Regions from separate parts of the Homo sapiens genome. Here region 2 is linked to region 1. A link means that fine-mapping ties the variant in region 1 to the expression of a gene that starts in the linked region. Tissue or cell type: whole blood. Region 1 holds a variant in brackets; the other region holds the start of a gene. All regions are shown on one strand. Distances are between the middles of the regions.

The links. PIP is the estimated chance that this variant, and not a neighbour inherited with it, causes the effect.
Region 2: KDM7A starts here. The variant in region 1 is fine-mapped to the expression of KDM7A in whole blood (TOPMed, PIP 0.96).

What each region holds. Positions count from the first base shown.
Region 1 is chr7:140,249,840-140,254,990 of GRCh38, reverse strand. It overlaps LOC107986854 (a long non-coding RNA gene), which reads right to left. Exons shown (of 2, transcript XR_001745386.2): 2 at 782-1,435. Among named protein-coding and RNA genes, the nearest start is that of KDM7A-DT, 75 kb to the right of the region's middle. RefSeq lists enhancers at 2,058-2,127, 2,158-2,207. The variant G/A (reference allele first, on the strand shown) is at 2,039.
Region 2 is chr7:140,174,952-140,180,102 of GRCh38, reverse strand. It overlaps KDM7A (lysine demethylase 7A), which reads left to right and starts at 3,120. Exons shown (of 20, transcript NM_030647.2): 1 at 3,120-3,359. The coding sequence starts at 3,166. It overlaps KDM7A-DT (KDM7A divergent transcript), which reads right to left and starts at 2,842. Exons shown (of 1, transcript NR_024451.1): 1 at 463-2,842. RefSeq lists silencers at 2,712-3,141, 3,182-3,281, 3,922-4,101, 4,112-4,391 and an enhancer at 2,564-3,487.

The DNA.
Region 1 (5,151 bases):
CTCTACAGCCTCCATGTCCCTCTTCTTTGGATTTTATACTAAGTCCTTTTCAGACACATTATTAGGAACCAATAAATATCTGTTGAGTGATTTCACATGTTAGAGTGCACTTGTTTCCTAGGGCTGCCATTAACCAAGTGTCACAAGCTGGTTGGCTTAAAAACAGTGGAAAATTCTCTCTCACCATTCTGGAGGCTAGAAGTTGGAAATCAAAGTGTCAGGAGAGCTATGCTCCCCCTGAAGGCTCTAAGGGGGAGGGCCTTCCTTGCCCCTTCCTAGCCTCTGGTGGCCCAGGCATCCTTGTCTTACGGCAGCATCGCCCTACCCTCTGCCTTCCTCTTCACATGGTCATATGCCCTGTGTCTTTGCGTCTGTGATATCTCCTCATCATATAAGGACACCAATTGTTAGATTTAGGGCCCACCTAAATTTACATCCATAATGATTGCATCTCAAGATCCTTAACTAATTACATCTGTAAAGGCTCTTTTAAAAATAAGATCAGGCCAGGCACCGTCGCTCACACCTGTAATCCCAGCACTTTGGGAGGTTGAGGTGGGCAGATCATGAGGTCAAGAGATAGACCATCCTGGCCAACATGGTGAAACCCCGTCTCTACTAAAAATACAAAAATTAGCTGGGCGTGGTGGCACATACCTGTAGTCCCAGCTTCTTGGGAGGCTGAGGTTGCAGTGAGCTGAGATCATGCCACTGCACTCTAGCCTGGCGACAGAGTGAGTCTCTGTCTCAAATAAATAAATAAATAAATAAGATCATATTCTAAAGTTCCAAAGTTCTGGGTGGATGTGAGTGTATTTTTTGGGCAGGGGGTGAACACTATTCAACCTGCTACACAGAGCTTTTTCAGTTGCAAATGACAGGAAACCTCATCTAAGGAGCTTAAATAAATGATTATTGGCAATCCTAGCAAAATATATCTAGTATGTTACCCTGAACAATATCGGGCTTTGATGAGGTTACAAGTCCATCTCTAAACTAATCACTGCAGCCAGGCCAGAGGCTGTACCTGAGCTCTTGAACCAGGGGTAGATTCAGTTCCACTGAAAGCACACAGACTGAGGAGATTATTTGCAGATACCATTACCAGGAGAAGGGGGAGCAGGTGCTAGGTGGTAGAAAACGTAGCCACCTGCTAGCATGGTCTTCCTCCACAGTCAGTCAGCTCTTGGGCAGCAGTGACTCTTCTCATATCTGCATTCCAGGGCCTTGAAGAACAGCAGGACTTCAAATAAATATTTACTGAGTTGTTTTTGAATTTTTAACATGATTCAGTCTCCAAGGGCTTCATTCATGGTAAATCTGCAATCCGGCGTCTGATCCAGGGTGAGCCTTCCCCACGGAGGCACTGTCCTTTGTAAGGCCCTTCTAGGTAGACCAGCTGGCCATCTGTTATGTAACCATCCATTCTTCAAAACTTCCATAAAAGAGAAGCAAGAAAGAAGGGTTTGGATCATGTTAGGGTCAAAGAAGGGCAGGAGAGAAATACAAGTGGTAGATGAAACTGAGCATCAAAGAAATACATCCCCACCTTTCCCCTTTGTTCTAACACACACACAAATCTCATTATCTGCAGGGTTGGACTATTGTTACCCTCACATACCCTGGAGTCCTGGTGGAGAATACAGGATTCTGGGTTTAGGCATGTGTCATTCGGTGGTTTAGGCCTGAAATATTGTGCCTTAAACACCCACAGAGGGGCCTTATATCCCAAACACCAGAAGAGCCAATGCCCAGAGGGTGAAATCAGACAGCCCTTAAGCTAGATGAAGCTGGAATTGGTAACCACACTATGGAGTTTAATTTGCTGACCTAGATGTAGTCTGCAGCCCACAAAACCTCATACCACAGCAAAGCTTTTTCTTGTGCTGAGACAGCTGGCTGAGCATGATGTTGCAATGACTCAGTTCTCAGTAAAGGGTCTGAGGAAATTAGGGGCAGGGCTACAGCCCCAAGACCACAGCTCCAAGAGACCTTCCTGTTTATTCATGGGTGAGAGAAGGGGAACCTTCTGTTTGTG[G/A]GCACTGGTATTTCATCAGAAGAGACAAGGCTGGACTCTGGGTTTGAGCTGTGTGTACACAGTCAACACATGACAGTCAGACAATTATACTCAGAGTGAGAATTCATATCTAGCCACATAGGCCAAAAGCATCTCTAAAAGCTGTTCTTAGGCCAGGCGTGGTGGCTCACACCTGTAATCACAGCACTTTGGGAGGCCAAGGCAGGTGGATCACAAGGTCAGGAGTTCGAGACCAGCCTGGCCAACATGGTGAAACCCCGTCTCTACTAAAAATACAAAAATTAGCTGTGCATGATGGTGCACGCCTGATGTCCCAGCTACTCAGGAGGCTGAGGCAAGAGAATCGCTTGAACCCAGGAGGCAGAGGTTGCAGTGAGCCGAGATCACACCACTGCACTCCAGCCTGAGTGAAAGAGCCAGACTCCATCTCAAAAAATAAATACATAAATAAATAAAAGCTGTTCTTAAAACTATGTGAATCAAATCACATTTTTACTTGACTTCCATTTTAAAACTGGACATAGGTTTATATGAGGAGGCCTAGTTCAATAAAACGAGAGTTGAAAACTCTGTGGGCTCGGAGGACTTCCCATTAAACATAGCCGGTTGAACATGTGCATACTCCTGGGCCTCCTCCCAAAACCCCACTAAAATGTGAGGCAAGAGACTTTTTTTGAAAAGCATAAGTCCATAAGAGAGGTAAGAGCAAAGAGAAGGATCAAAAAGATTTTTAAGCTGGAAATTTGAGAGATAATGAACCTCACACACCAGAGTAAAGGGTCTCAAAATGGGGAAGCCAAGAAAACAAGCCAATCCATGCCTCTGAAACACCCCAAAGGCTTAGGAATTGGAGGTACCAGATACTTCTGAAAAGGCATGGCTGCGGCTGAAAACTAGAGCACTGATTAAAAGTTTTCTTCCAACCTGGGCAACATAGTAAGACCCCATCTCTACAAAAAACACAAAAATTAGCCAGGGGCTGGTGATGCACACCTGTGGTCCCAGCTACTCAGTAGGCTGAGGCAGGAGGATCACTTGAGCCCAGGAGGTTGAGGCTGCAGTGAGTCATGCTCGGTCCACTGCACTCCAGCCTAGGCAACAGGGCAAGAAAAAAATAAAAATAAAAAGTTTTCTTAAGCAATAGTTAAGGCTGGGCACGGTGGCCCACGCCTGTAATCCCAGCACTTTGGGAGGCCAAGGCGGGCAGATCACTTGAGGTCAGGAGTTTGAGACCAGCCTTGCCAACATGGTGAAACCCCCTCTCTACTAAAAATACAAAAATTAGCCAGGCATGGTGGTGCATGCCTGTATTCCCAGCTACTCAGGAGGCTGAGGCAGGAGAATCATTTGAACCTGGGAGGCAGAGGTTGCAGTAAGCTAAGACGGTGCCACTGCACTCCAGCCTGGGCCACAGAGCGAGACTCCATCTCAAAAAAAAATGAGAGTTAATCCCTGCAGTTCTTCCCTTAGCCTATGCAACAAGCTACTACTTTCTCTCAGCCTTCATCAGAGACGGACCACTTATTGTATGGGGAGTTTGAGTTAGAGGAACTTTGGACTTAGGAACAACTGAAGGTGGAAGATGAGTATCAAAGAAGGGGGATGAAATGAAAGTCAATGTACCAACCCGTGCTGTCCTCATATTTGACTCCTAGACACTGGCAGACACATTTATAACTATGGGGAGGGAGTTCAGAGAACTCCCATAGGAAACTGACCACCAAAAGAAGAGACATGGAAATGTATCATAGGGGATTCCCCCAAGAATGACTGGCCCCTGTCTGATCACCCCATTCTAAAATCACTCCATCATACATGCAAATCTTTCTTTGTTTTGCTTTGTTTTGTTCTGTTTTGTTTTGAGATGGAGTCTTCCTCTGTCACCCAGGCTGGAGTGCAGTGGTACAATCTTGGCTCACTGCAACCTCCGCCTCCCGGGTTCAAGGGATTTTCCTCCCTCAGCCTCCCGAGTAGCTGGAATTACAAGTATGTGCCACCACGCCCAGCTAATTTTTATATTTTTAGTAGAGACAGGATTTTGCCAGTCGGCCCTGCTGGTCTCGAACTCCTGACCTTAGGTGATCCACCAGCCTCAGCCTCCCAAAATGCTGGGATTACAGGCGTGAGCCACCGCACCCAGCCAATATTGTTTCTTAAAACTGAATATTCAGTGAATAAAAGCATTCATGGAAGGTTGAGCTGTGATAGTAGAAACTAAAAATTCAAGACGTCAGGTGTGGTGGCTCATGCCTGTAATCCCAACACTTTGGAAGGCTGAGGCAGGAGGATCTCTTGAGCCTAGGAATTCGAGACCAGCTTGGGCAACATAGCGAGACCCTGTCACTACAAAAAATAAAAAATTTGTCAGGCATGGTGGCACATGCCTGTTGTCCCACCTACTTGGGAGGCCAAGGTAGGAGGATCGCTTTAGCCTAGAAGTTTAAGGCTGCAGTGAGCTATGATCAAACCACCGCACTCCAGCTTGGGTGACAGAGTGAGACCCTGTCTCAAAAGAAAAGAAGAAAAAAGAAAAGTCAGAAGGTAAAGTTGAAAAAAAAATCACAGAAAGTAGGAAAAAAGGGTCAGAAAATAGGAGAAAGACAGTTAGAAAATCAGAGACCTTCTACATCAATTTAGGAAGTCTGACATTTGAGTAATTGGAGTTCCATAAAGAGAGAATACAGAAAATGGAAAGGAGGAAATAATGTTTTAAAAAATAACAGTAATTCAAGAAAAAAAATTCTAAAATGGAAGACCATATGTTTCTAGATTGAAAGGGCCTACCCGAGTATCCAAGGCAATGAATGGAAAAAAAATCCCCTACCAAGGCACAACATTGTGAAATTTCAGAACAACTATGAATAAGATCTAAAAAGCTTCCAGGATAAAAAAAAAAATAGCAGGTTATGTACTACAGATCAGAAATGGCAATAGCTTTGCTCTTCTCAAGCACAACGCTAGAAGCTGGAATATGATGAATTCAAAGCTAACATGCAAGTGTGAATGAAGAATAGAGACACTTTCAGAAATGTAAGCTTTCAAAATTTTAACCTCCCAAGCAGCCTTTCTTCTTTTATTTTATTTTTTATTTGAGATGGAGTCTCGCTCTGTCT
Region 2 (5,151 bases), 75 kb after region 1:
TTCCTTGAACCCAGAGGGCGGAGGTTGCAGTGAGCCAAGATCATGCCACTATACTCCAGCCTGGGCAACAAAGTGAGACTGTGTCTCAAAAAAAAAAAAAAAAAAAAAAGAAAAATAAATAAAAATAAATAAATAAATAAATAAATAAATAAATATCTGAGGCATACAACTGTAATCCCAGCACTTTGGGAGGCTGAGGCAGGTGGATCACCTGAGGTCAGGAGTTCAAGACCAGCCTGAGTAACATGGTGAAACCCTTCTGTACTACAATTACAAAAATTAGCCGGGCATGGTGGCAGGTACCTGTAACCCCAGCTACTCAGGAGGCTGAGGCCTAAGAATTGCTTGAACCCGGGAGGTGGAGGTTGCAGTGAGCTGAGATCGCACCACTGCACTCCAGCCTGAGCGACAGACCCAGACTTCATCTCAAAAAAAAAAAAGAGAAAAATATCTGAGACTGTGTAATTTGTAAAGGAAAGAAGTTTAATTGGCTCATGGAAGGCAGGCTGTACAGGAAGCATGATGCTGGCATCTGCTCAGCTTCTGGGGAGGCCTCGGGAAACTTACAATCATGGCTGAAGACAAATTGCATCATATAGCCGGGGCAGGAGCAAAAGAGAGAGGGAGGAGGTGCCACATATTTTTCAATGACCAGATTTCTTAAGAACTCACTCATTACCACGGGGACAATACAAAGTGGATGGTACTAAACCATTCATAAGAAATCCACCCCCATGATCCAGTCACCTCCCACCAGTCCCCACCTCCAACATTGGGGATTACAATTCAACATGAGATTTGGGTGGGGACACAGATCCAAGTCATATGGATAACCAATCTCTCATTGTTGCTGCTGCCTCCTGCTCTGCTGGGCTTCCTTCTTCATACCCCTGCCTAGTCCCTCCATGTTAACATAGCAAGTCCAGGTGGCCCCCAGAGGACATCCCACAACAGGCTGCTTTGGTGCTCTTTAGCCAGACTCCAACAAGACAGCTTTGCATGCCTTCTCTTCACTGCTGTATTGTCTCGACAACACACACCTTCAACAAAGTACATTTAAAAATACATTGTCTTTTTGCTCCATGTAAAACCTCTGTGAGATAATTAAGGCATTACTAGCCATATTTTTTCTTTCAACAGATCATCAGTGATCTAGTTCAGGAGAAATGGAGTGACTGGCCCGAGGTCACAGATTATAGAAAGCAGGACCTGAGTGCATGGGTCTTTCCACTCCAGCAATATGTGATGCCTATGCCAAAATTACAGTACCTTTTTTTCTCCAGTAGAAATATGTTTCAAGCTTAATCAGTGTGTGGTCAACTAATTTCCAGCCTTTCCTTTTCCCGCTATATATATGCCAAACAGTGATGTGATAGAAAAACGAATAGTTGCAGAATTGAGACACTTAAAAACTTCAGTTACAGCTCTAATATATGAGACTTCAGTCAAGTTACTAGCTTTCCTCAACTATAAAAAGGAGATTAGGCAGGACTTGGTGGCTCACGCCTGTAATCCCAGCACTTTGAGAGGCCGAGGCGGGCGGATCACTTGAGGTCAGGAGTTCAAACAGCCTGGCCAACATGGTGAAACCCCGTCTCTATTAAAAATACAAAATTACCCGGGTGCGGTGGCGTGCGCCTGTAATCCCAGCTACTTGGGAGGCTGAGGCAGGAGGATCCCTCGAACCCGGGAGGTGGAAGTTGCAATGAGCCGAGATCACAGCACTGCACTGCACTCCAGCGCGGGCAACAAGAACGAAACTCCGTTTCAAAGAAAGAAAGGAAAGAAAGGAAAGGAAAGGAAAGGAAAGGGAGGGAGGGAAGGAAGGAAGGAAGGAAGGAAGGAAGGAAGGAAGGAAGGAAGGAAAGAAAGGAAAGAAAGAAAGAAATGGAGAATTAGATCAGCGACTCTTTGCCTGGGGGTGGGTGACAGAACAACACTTCTTCCTCCCCTAACAAAAATTACCTATGGAGCTGTGAGGGCTTTCCCCACTGATAGAAATGCCAGCAGAAATTCAGCTACAAATACTCAATCCAATAATCCTTAACATCACTTCCAATCCACAGTTATGATTCCAACGCAATCTTTTCTATACAGTATTTGTCAGCTGTTTTTATTCTTCAGTTTATCATCTTATATTTGGCTCTCAATTTCACCCATAAATTATTGATGGCTTATTATACGCCAAGTACCCTGCGCTCCGCTTTTTGTGGTATCCCTCTTCGGAGCGAGAAGTCACTTAGAATTTTACCCCATCTTCCCCACTTGGGAATCGGAAGGGTTCATAGCTAAGTTTTGTTATTTATAAGCACGCCGGCTCTTCTCTATCCCTCTCTCCACCAACCCCATTTCAAGGTTGGTCCCTCCCAGCGGACGACAGTGATGAATTCCTCTTGGGGACAGCCCTCCCGCAACTAACGGTGGCTCCATCGACGCTCTGGTCTCCTTGCTGCTCGCTGGGAATTCGGGTGGGACGTTTTCCAAAGTTTGGATTCCACGGCACATTCCTCCCTCGGAAAGGCACAACCGGCTCGGCGTGTCAGCTCAGCTGGACTCACGCCGGTGCGGGGCCGCAGCTCCGGTTCTCGCTGGGCGGCTGCGGAGGGCTGGGCGATTCTCTCAGCGTCGCGAGGCGACCCGGGCAGCAGCAAACTTCTCCGCTTCCCCTCTTCGGGACGCGGCACCTCTTCTGCCCTTGAGCACTCCGCAGGAACTTCCCCCGGCCTCGGCTCTCGCTCCGAAATAACCGAGCCAGCTCCTCGCACGCTCCCGCCGTCCTCCTCCGGCTGCGGCCGCGCGCCCGCCGCCACCGCCACCACCGCGCGTGTCCTCACGGGGCCTCAGCTCCCTCCGCCCCCGCAGCCGCCTGCGTGCCCTTCAACAGCTCCCTCCGCCCGGCCGTCGCGGAGAGGAGCGGGGAGCGCGCGCCGGCGCCAGAGACGTGCGCGAGACGCACGGCCCCGCGCCGAGCGCCGGAAGCAGCCGAGTCTGGGCCTCGCGCGTCGCGCGCGCCTCCTCCCCCTCCGCCAGCCGCCGCGGCCTCGCGCGCGCGCACTGAGGCGCCGCCGCCGCCGCGGCTGCTGCAGGAGGCGGCGCTGGCTGGCGGCTGCGCTCGCTCCAGTCGGCGAGCGGAGTAGCGAGCGAGCGTGTGTGTGTTTTTTAAAGATGGCCGGAGCGGCGGCGGCGGTGGCCGCGGGAGCAGCAGCTGGAGCCGCCGCGGCAGCCGTGTCGGTGGCGGCTCCCGGCCGGGCCTCGGCGCCTCCGCCGCCCCCGCCCGTGTACTGTGTGTGCCGGCAGCCGTACGACGTGAACCGCTTCATGATCGAGTGCGATATCTGCAAGGACTGGTTCCACGGCAGGTAAATAAACCCCCTCCAGCCCCGCAGCCGCCACCGCCGGCCACCGACCAACCGCCGCCGCCGCCGGCCGCCCGCGCCTCCCTCGGGCCGGGCCGCCGCGCCGCGCCCAGCTTTCAGGGGGCCCCGGTGCCTAGCCCCCCGGCCGGGCAGTGGGGCGCGCGGTGCCCCGGGTTCGCCGGGCGGGCTCCAGAGGGGAGCCGGTGGGCTCGCCTGGCCCGGGCGAAGAGTCGCCACAACAAACACGAACAAAGAGGGCCGGCGGATAAGTTGGCAGGGGGAGCCTGGGGCGAGGGGACGCGGCCGGGCGGGCGCGGCGGGGGCGTCGGGCGGAGCGCCGGCCGGGTCCGCAGCCCCTCGCCAGCCCGGGCCGCCGCCGCCCCGCCCCGCCCCGCCGCGCCCGGGGCTCCGGCCGGAGTCGCCGGCCGCCCCGCCGCTCTGCCCGGCCGGCCGACGCGCCTGCCTTCCTTCCGGGCGGCGATGGGGTCGCCCCGGCCCCGCGTCTCCTCCGCGCCGCGGGTCCCTGTCGCGCCCCCTTCCCCGTCTTTATCAAACTTCCTGGGCCAGTGGGACGGGGGCAGCGGCGGGCCGGAGAGGCGACCGCGCCAGCCAGCTCGGCGGGGCTCCGCGGAGTAAACAGAGCAACAGATGAGGCACTCGCTCTCGGGGACTTGAAAGGTGCCGGGGAAGTTGGGGCCGGGCCCCCGGCGGGCGGCAGGTTGACCCGGGTCGCGGTCCTGGGCCCCCGCACACACCCGGGTCGCCGGGACTGGGGCAGATGGAGTGGGTTGCGGCGGCCCGAAGGGAACGCTTCTCCGGACCCCCTGCGTTGCCCTCGCGCCGCGGCTTAAACTTTACAAAGAGTGCAGTTGCCATCGCTCGAAGCTGGCGACACCGGGACCGCCTGCGGCTGTGCCCGGGCGCCGGTGCCGGCGAACTTGAGTCGGCCGGGCGGACGCTGCGGGGCCGGCTGGCGGCGGCGGCGGACGCTGCCCTCTGATTCAGCCGCCGCCGCGCTCCGGGTTTGACGTTTGAGAGCTCGGGCCGCCTCCGCAGCCAGGCCGCCGACTCGTGTGTTTTGTAATCAAAGTGTGAGGCTAATAAAGGGCGGCGCCACAGCCTCTTGACTCCGGCGTGGGAGGGATTCACAGGCATTTAAACAAAGAAACTAGTTGGGGTTGGGCTCCCAAAGTCCTTATTTGGGTGTTGTGGCAAAGCCTGCGGTCACCTTTAGTTGAAGCCGGTTTCCCGGGCCCCGTTTGGTGTTGTCTCTTGGCGAGAGCACGCTCACGAGTAATAGCAGATATGGTGACTGTGATTGTAGGAAGTGTCTTTTGATTGACAGCAGGACATTTAAATACAGCCTCCGCTCCCCCCCTCCCCAATTTTACAGAAACACTACAAGACCAGGCCAGATGTCTTAGTCTCCCTCTACTGGTCCAGGGAGAGAAAACCATGTAAATCACAATGTTCTTTGCAGTGTTTAGTGCTAGGTGTAGTTAAGTTTTACTTAATTTTCAAGTACAGTTTTACTTAATCAGTTTTCAGGCTAGCCGATTCTCACAACAGAAAACAAGACACAGTAAATTATCACTTTAAAAGAAAGGCAGCGTCCTCGTTTCGTATAATCTTTAGCAGTCTTGTATATCCAATTCTATTTCCACATCCTGTTTCCATAACATATTCTACGCAACTAGAATAAAGATTATCCGAACATTTAGGTTCTATATAGAATAAAATCAGAATCCCTGGTGATTATGTAAATGCTTATTTTTTTTCAAAGAACTATTTTTTG